2 separate regions of the Homo sapiens genome follow, and region 2 is reported to be linked to region 1. The links are microRNA targets in miRTarBase. Many come from high-throughput screens and were not tested one by one. Region 1 holds a microRNA gene; the other region holds the end of a gene's coding sequence.
Evidence for each region. Region 1 holds the annotated microRNA hsa-miR-339-3p (UGAGCGCCUCGACGACAGAGCCG, at 1,303-1,325, shown strand). A microRNA usually pairs through its seed, bases 2 to 8, with sites in the 3' UTR of a target mRNA and lowers its output. Matches are read on the target gene's strand: a 7mer-m8 pairs with bases 2 to 8, a 7mer-A1 pairs with bases 2 to 7 and ends in A, and an 8mer does both.

Region 1 (4,383 bases):
TGAGGCTTCTGAGCTCCTGCAGGCGGGAGTAGGGAGGCAGGTCCCACTGTCAGCCAAGCTGCAGGGTTTTTAGGAAGAAAGTGGGGGCTGTGCACCGTGGGCTCACACCTATAATCCCAGCACTTTGAGGCTGGCCGGAAGGATCGCTGTGGCCCAGGAGTTTGAAAACTCATGCCTATAATCCCAGCACTTTGGGAGGCCGGCAAGGAGGATCACTTTAGCTCAGGAGTGTGAGAGCAGCCTTGGTCCTATCTCTATAAAAAATTTAAAAACTGGCCAGGCATGGTGGCACATGCCTATAGTCCTGGTTGCTTGGGAGGCTGAGGTGGGAGGATTGCTTGAGCCCAGGAGGTCGAGGCTGCAGTAAACTGTGATGGTGCCGCTGCAGTCCAGCCTGGGCCACAGAGCAAGACCGTGTATCAAAAGGAAAGGGCTGCTGTGGAAGGGCCTCCAGTCCCCTGGCCTGGGCTGCAGGGGCCGCTGCTCCAGCCCTGCCTTCTACATGTGCCGAGATGTGAGCAGTCACCCCTGGAGATCCTCACCCCTTCTCTGTAGAACGAGGAGTTGGGCTGCCAGGGATTGGGGTCTGGGCGCGTTGCTGGTGTGTGTGTGTGTGTGTGTGTGTGTGTGTGTGTGTGTGTGTGTGTGTGTGTGTTTCCTGGGAGGAGGCCCCCACAGTCTTCGTCATGTTCTCCAGGGCCCAGTGGGAAGGAGTTGGAAGTTGGATGGAGAGAAATGTGGAGTAGGGCAGGAACCTCCTTCCTAGGAAGGAGCCTGCGGGGGACCCTGCAAGGGGTCCCAGGTTCCCAGGAGGCCTCGGGTGTGCTGTCAGAGGGGCGCTGGGGCTGGGAGTCTGTCCATGTCTTCAGCCTGGGTCTCGTGAGTTCAGGGAGTTTGAACCTGGGTGGAGAATGAGCCCCTGTGCGTCTTCCCTAACCTCCAGCTGACACGAGCTTCCGCAGACCCCGCGGTGGCGGGTGTGGGCGCTCCCCGTGCCATCTGTTGGGGACACCTCACACATCACTTGCGCTCAGCCCGTGTCGCGGCTGCAGGAGCCACCAGACCTTGTAAATACTCGGATGCCCACATCTGCTCGTCTGTGTCTCCCTGTGGCTGTGCATCAGACCTCACGCGTTTAAAACGTCCTTCTGAGAAGGGGCCACAGGCAGGTGCCACCCATTGCCACGGCACCATGGCAGGAAGCGTCCCATGCTCTGCAGGGGTGGCAGGAAGCGTCCTGTGCTCCGCAGGGGCGGGGCGGCCGCTCTCCCTGTCCTCCAGGAGCTCACGTGTGCCTGCCTGTGAGCGCCTCGACGACAGAGCCGGCGCCTGCCCCAGTGTCTGCGCCGGGACCATGGAGTGGCCAGCTCGCCGCGGAGACGTCGCCGCGCTTTGTAGCAGCCCCTGGACTCGTATGCGTGGGTCTTCTGATGCAGTGTGTTTTATTCGGTATCAACATGGAAGGGGGAGAGCATGGGATGTTCCACTGGTGTCCTAGGGAGGAAGTAACTGGGGAGGGAGGACGGTTGGGGGGGATTCACCTTTAAAGAATTTGAGAGCTTGTTTATTTTGCAGAATAAGAGTAAATTAATCCCCTGTGTGTTTCTGATCATTAAGAAGACCACATCGATGCTGTTGGTTGTGGGACTGTCATTTCAGAGTCCGGATCCGAATGTGGTCCTGGCTACTCTGCGAGGGTTGCCGTGGGAGGAGGTGGTGGAGGGCACGTGGGCGTCCCGTGTTCCCTCACGACGGCCGTCACCTGCGATTGCGTTAAAATAAAAGGCTTAATTTAAAAAACTCTTGTTTCTCAGAAAAAGCAGTTTACTACTGTGAGTTAACGCCGTGGGATTCTAATAATTGAGGTGACAAATCTGATTAAGGTTTTCTTTAAATTGGAACAGAATCCGTACGGGTGCCCCATGAGAGGGCTGTGGGACGTGGGACCAGGCTCCTGACCTTGGAACCCCTGGGTGGGGTCTGAGGCGATGCAGGAGAAAGAGGAGCTCGTGGTCCAGGAGGCGCCCGTGGGTGGGGACATGCCTCCCCGCAGGCCTGCGTCTGTCCTCGTGGGACGGGGCCAGGCTTCTGGTCCTTCCCTCCTGAGCTGCCGTCACCACCGTGGCTCACGAACAGTGCAGCGGGGCTCCTGGTGGTCTGCGAGCAGACTCCGGTGGACTCAGGGTTGGTTGCCCTGTCCAGGGGGCCTCGAGTGCTCCAGGACATGGCCTGTCCGATGTGGCCCAGGCGCCACGCCTGTGGGCCGTCATCGCTGTCACCTGGGTGTGCCGAGGGACTTGGGCTTTCCTGCCACCCCCGCGGAGGATCGAACCTTGTGACCCAGGCCGAGGGAGCTGCCCTGGGTGCCCCTCAGGCTCCTGCTCCCCAGGACTCAGTTTATACCCCAAAACCCAGCCTCGCCCCGCGGAAGGGCGCGCATCCCAGTGTGTTTCCCTGTGCCAGGCACAGTTCTCGCTGGGCGGGTATTTTTGCCGCATGCTTTCTTTTAGTGCGCTGTTTGTGTATGGTTGTTGGTGAGCTGTGGTTTCTGTCTGGTGACAAGTAGGGAGGGGTTAGGGGGGTGGTGTCCTGCCTCCAGCCGACCTGCCGGGGTTCCCAGAGGGCACTGCGGTGGCAGCAAAGCCAGTCACACTGGGGCTGGCAGATTGTCCCTCTCCCATCCAACAGCATGGGGAAATGATTGATGACTGACAGCTGCTGAAGCCCTACTCCTGTGCGGTGGATGGACAGTGCTCCCTGGGGTCCCAGCTCCAACTACTGGCATCTTGTCAAAGCAGCAGCCCAGGTGGCCACCACTGCCGATCAGACTTAATGGATGAAGACAGGAAGGCTGGGCAGAGCCCTTCAGCTTCCGACTCTGGTTCAGTCACTGAAATCCGCAATATCATCTCTGTCAAGGTCAGGTCCTACTGCCACGATGAAAAGGCTTCTGGGGAAGAAGAAAGAAACCTGCCCCATGGGTGCCAGCCTGGAGGTCCACACTAGAGGTCCCTGCTGGGAGATCCTCAGCCTGGAGGTTCCCAACCTGGGGGTCCGTGCTGGGAGGTCCCCAGTCTGGAGGTCCCCAACCTGGAGGTTCTTAACCTGGTGATCCCCAACCAGAAGGTCCCTACTGGAATGTCTCCAGCCTGGAGGTTCCCAACCTGGAGTTCCCTGCTGCGAGGTCCCCAGCCTGGAGGTGCCTGCCTGAAGGTCCCCAGCCTGGAGGCCCTGCTGGGAGGTCCCCAACCTGGAGGTACCTGCCCGAAGGTCCCCAGCCTGGAGGTACCTGCCTGAAGGTCCCCAGCCTGGAGGCCCTGCTGGGAGGTCCCATCTGAAGGCTCCACCTGGTGGTGTCTTTCGTAACCCCAGTCCCCAGCTCTGCTGTATCAGGACGTTACAAACGGCCTGATTGCCCCCAAGAAAGTCGAGGGGTCCTGACCCCTGCACTCCTCCGTTTCACACAGCCTGGGGAGCCCAGAGGAGCAGGACATCCAAGGCCCAGGCCGTCTGCAGGGGTGGTCAGCAGACGGCAGTGATGGGCTGGTGTCTGCCCCTGAGATCAGAGGTGAACAGGAATGGGAGCCTCTGTTTCCTGCAGGTCCTCCCTGCTCGGGAGGTGGGTTCGGTAAGGGCTGGGTTTACTGTCATTCATTTCCTTACATCATCTTGGTCTTAGCTGTGTGAGACTAGCTGTCCCTGCAGTCTGGGAGGGGTTGGCCTGTTCCCCAACCCGCTACAGCCCCCTTGTGTGTGGTATCCGCCAGACATATCTCGATAGTGGGGGCTCCAGGTGGGGGCGCCGAGGGGCCCTTGGGTGGAGACGCAAGATGGGGCAGCGGCTGGCGAGAAGCGAACCTAGGGGGCTCCTCTCTGGGGCCCAGGAAGAGTTCTTGGAGAGGCTGTCCTGGCTCTGACAGGAGAGCGGGCCTCCCCTTTGGTGGGCGTGCTGGGCGGGGCCCCAGGCTGCAGGAGGACTGTGATGGGAGCAAGGGGTGCCCCCTCTCTCAGGGAGCCCCAGGAGGGCAGAGGCTGCAGCGCGTGTTCACAGGACGGGAGCATGAGGGAATGCACTCCGCGGCGTGGGAAGAAACAGTCGTGGGGACCAGGGCATCGCACGCGGGGCCTGCCGCATCCATGCACTGCTGGGCCTGGTGCCCGTGTTCCCGCAGAGCAGCAGACACCACCACTCCGCCGGCCCTTGGATCTCTCCTCAGTGGGAAGAGAGGCTGGGGACGGGCCGGCCACCTGCCGCCTCGCTGGACTTCTGCCCTGGGATTCCTGAGACGAGAGCCGAGCGTCCTAAGCTGCCCTCGTCCAGGTGCCCCGTGGCCTCCCTCGGGAAACGCACTGTAGCTTGGCCTCCGGGCCGCGGTCAGTGCC
Region 2 (4,383 bases), not on the chromosome of region 1:
TTTTCCCAAATGTTTCTTCATGCTTTAGTGCAAAGGCCAGCACACTTTTCTGTAAAAGGACACAGAGTAAGTATTTTCAGCTCTGTGGCCCATGCTTTGGTCTTTGTAGCACCTACTCTACTCAAGTCTGGAGTTAGTGTGAAAACTGCCACAGACAAATGAATAGGTGTAGCAGTGTTTCTACAAAACTTTACAAAAATAGGCCAGTTTTTGTATGACCCTGCTATATTAACATACAAAACATACTGAATACAGATTCACAGAAAGGCATTACCAAATTCATTTGTCATTCATCTTTTATTTCCTTAATCAAACAAAGGTACAAATTCTAATAAGAAAAAGTGAGATCTTTATGTTAACAAGGGGCTATTCATATTGGAAAGCTGAGAATCACTACTTGGGACACAAAAGTTTGGGTCTCCAGGTCTGACGAAGACTACTATAAAGAAACCTGCTCTAACATTGTAAAGTGCATAGTCTATGCCCTAAGCTGTGCTAAATACTTTCTTTACATGGATGATTTCTTGCATTTGAAAACAAAACCCAATATGAACCTACTATTAACCTCGATTTTACAGGTAAGCAAGCCATGTTTCAGCAAGTTTAGTAATCTGGCAAGGCTGACATAACCAAATTAGTGGCAGAGAAGAAACCAAACTACAGAGCTACAACCACGCAGTCAGTCCTTTACTATGCTAGCCAACCAATCCTCCATGGTAAGAAGATTCACCAGGTTTGAAAGATTGGCTTAAATCCTTTTTTTTTTTTGAGACATAGTCTTAACTCTGTTGCCAGGCTGGAGTGCAATGGCACAATCTCGGCTCACTGCAACCTCCGCCTCATGGTTTCAGGTTGATTCTCCCGCCTCAGCCTTCCAAGTAGCTGAGATTACAGGCGCCCGCCACTACGCCCAGCTAATTTTTGTATTTTAGTAGAGATGGGGTTTCACCATGTTGGTCAAGCTGGTCTCAAACTCCAGACCTCGGGTGATCTGCCCCTCAGCCTTCCAAAGTGCTGGGATTACAGGCGTGCGCCACCCGCTGGCTTAAATTCTTGTACTCTCTGATGGTCTTCCCCTTTGGAAGATCTTAACAATTATCACTGCCTTAGGAGCTCTGATCTTCCTTTTAACTTCTGACCCAAGGATGGACACTTACTTTTTCCTCTTAAGCTTAAGACTTTATCAAGGATAATAACTGGAATTAAAATAGAGAAAAAAATTAGCTAGCTCACCAGATATTCTGAAAACACTGTTCCTGAGAAACCCTTATACGTTTTTATAGGTTGACGTCTTCCTTGGTCTATAATTTCCATGGGACAAAGACATTTCTCTACCTGGGAGTGCCCTTAAATTCAAGCTCTGGAAATCAAGGTCTAGGGAAAAATTCATTCACCAGTCTGAGACCTACCTTCCAGGTCCCCATTTTCTGTCCCAGTTGTCTTTTCTCTAGATTATAAACACTAAACAAACATGTGTGGTCTCTTTAGAGGGGATCCCAAAACCCAGCCCTGGTGGTTTGGTCTTACCTTGTGGCCTCAGAGGGCTACCTTATCATTATATGATAGCCTAACAACAATGTGGTATAGTGGGGCGGGTGGTGAGCAGGTGTCATTTTCCTTAGAGAAACCTACTCTACTTCCCAGCCAGGAGCCACTTAGTTGGAATGGGGACTGACACTTTATAGTTAAGTGAGCACATCACACTGATCTCTAAAACAAGACTTCAGTGGGGCAGCATTCCCCATTACCAGTCCAGCCTCCACAGCTTCTGATGGCTCCCACAGCTGCCCTTTCTTTATTTTGGTGTGACTAGCCCACTGCAGAGCCATTCCCATTACAGCCACTGCTATGTTCCTCTTTTAGGAACAAGTGACTACCCTGAAAAAAGAAGAGATGAAACAAATCACCCTTCAAATACAAAGTAAAATCATTCTTTAATTATTAAAAAAAAATCACTGTTGGGCTTTTTTTTTTAAAGGTCCATAAATTTTCAATGCAATGTTGAACTGGGGAAATGGTTATAGCAGCTCTCACATAAGTTATTTGAATTAATAAACATTATCACAGTATTAAGAAGGCAAGGTAAACAAATAGCTTAAGTATTTTATTTGTTTGCAACTAAGCTTGTTAACACTATATAATGAAAATGTACAAAGAATAATGTTGCAGTTTTTGGTTAGATTTAAGTCAAAGACATTCATTAATAAGGAATCTTCGAATGTGAATATTCCAGAAATTTCTCTAAGCCATCTGATCACAACAACTGTCTCTGAATATTACCTTACTTTGGAAGGTATTGGCATACATTTGAATTAAACTCAGAATTTTTCAAAATAAGCCCTAATTAAAAAAACTATTCTATATTCAAAGTAAAACAATATTAATAGAACTTTCCTTTCCAGAAACAATGAAGGAAACAAGGCATTTTGTAAAATGTGGTCCTGAACAAGTCACAGTAAAAAATAAATGTATACTTAACTTCCACCTCCTCAAAACAGAGGCTACTTTCTGTTCCTCAGCCTTGGAAACAAGGTGAAGAACAGCCTATATGCGACTTCGGGCAGGGGGTTGCCAAAACAAAGCTGAAGCAGTTGACCATGGACACCTCAAAAGAATTTGGGAGAACCCGACCAAAGGATCCAAATTCTATGTTTTTTTTTTTTTTTTGAGACGAAGTCTCGTTTTGTTGCCCAGGCTGGAGTGCAGTGGCATGATCTGTGCTCACTGCAACCGCCACCTCCAGGGTTCAAGTGATTCTCCTGCCTCAGCCTCCCAAGCAGCTGGGATTACAGACGCCTGCCACCACGCCCGGCTAACTTTGTTGTATTTTTAGTAGAGATGGGGTTTCACCATATTGGCCAGGGTGGTCTCGAACTCCTGACCTCAAGTGATCCGCATGCCTCGGACTCCCAAAGTGCTGGGATTACAGGCGTGAGCCACTGCGCCCAGCCCAAATTATATTTTTTAATAACTAATACAAAGGTGAAGTGGCTCCTCCCAAGTAGCAGTGCTGCCGGGGCCTGGCCCAGGCCTAGCCCTGGGCTCACCTCTCATGCTCCCAAGCCAACCCTGATGCTCCTGGCTCCAGGGTAGACCTTTTCCCTTTAGAGGTTCAGTGTCCAGGGAGCTCTATGATAATTGTGTGAATGAGGTGAGCGCTGACTCCATGTGAGTATTTTAAGGCTTGGAGTCAAAGAATTAACCTAACATGCCCAGGCAGAGTCCATGTGTCAATGGCCCGTCTCCAGTTTGTTCTAATTTCTCACCACGTGTCTGTAGATATAGGACCGCAGACCTTCGCTTTATCATCATAATCACATCTAATGTCCATCCTAACTTACGATTCATATTCTGTGCCTGGAAACAGTCCCTGTATTTAACAATACCTACACATAAAAACAATCCACTGTTACAACTTGTATGGTCACAAAACATTAATGATCTTCTTTAGACCAAGCAAATGTTTTTTTACCATAATTGTCGTGCACCAAATTCACAGCCAGAATCCCCAAGATCAAAAAAAAATTTTTGCACAATACAAATAATAACTTAAAATACACATACACACATATACACACACTCTCACACGCACTTCTTACAGAACTGTGCTTGGGGAAACTCCATTTGTTGAATGCCACTGAAGGCATATTTTGCTAAACTGCTGCTCCAGGTATTTTTGTTTGGAAAATCTATCACAGTAGGGCACAGCTGTTTATTGGATGAGCAGAAAAGAAAGATATGCTTGTGGCAACCAGAAAGTTTTACGGTCTTTCAAGTTGTATAAAATGGACCTGCAGAAACGTTTAAGTGTTCTCAGGATGCAAAGTTGGAGCTGAAATGTGACATCAAACCAGTTGCAAAAAGTGTACAGCAGCCATCTCTTGAGGTCAAACCTGGTACCCAGATATGTGACAAAGCTTCATGACACATCTGTAAATTAAGAATAAAAAACAAAAAGGGTAAGAATACTAAAAACTGTAGTGTCATGCTTTAAAAATTTTCACTAACAGTAAATGTGAGAAATAGCATGAACGATGACTCACCACTTAAAAGATACTAAAGATCAAGAATTTAAGGAACCTGACTGAAATTCAGTTAGATATACAACTGTTAATATTTTATGCTTTGAATATCTGGTAGTTGCAAATTATTTAGAATAAGAAATCCTGACCACACTTGATAAACTAACTTAAGGAATCAACTTTCATAAATTAACAACTGAAACTATCTTTCTGGAGAAAAGACAGGTAACAAATTGGTGCTCAAGTCAGACTACCTAGATTTTAATCCTAGCTGAACCACTAGCTGTATAAGCTTGGGCAAATTATTTAACCTCTTTAAATGCTATCTTTACCAGTAAAATGGAGCTAATAATAGTACTCC

Region 2: miRTarBase lists AKIRIN1 as a target of hsa-miR-339-3p. Seed matches in the 3' UTR shown: 7mer-A1 at 3,153-3,159.

What each region holds. Positions count from the first base shown.
Region 1 is chr7:1,019,897-1,024,279 of GRCh38, reverse strand. It overlaps MIR339 (microRNA 339), which reads left to right and starts at 1,254; the gene lies at 1,254-1,347. All of the region lies in intron 2 of CHLSN (cholesin), which reads left to right. RefSeq lists an enhancer at 586-1,143.
Region 2 is chr1:39,003,592-39,007,974 of GRCh38, reverse strand. AKIRIN1 (akirin 1) reads right to left here. Exons shown (of 5, transcript NM_024595.3): 5 at 1,916-3,930. The coding sequence ends at 3,920. Among named protein-coding and RNA genes, the nearest start is that of AKIRIN1, 15 kb to the right of the region's middle.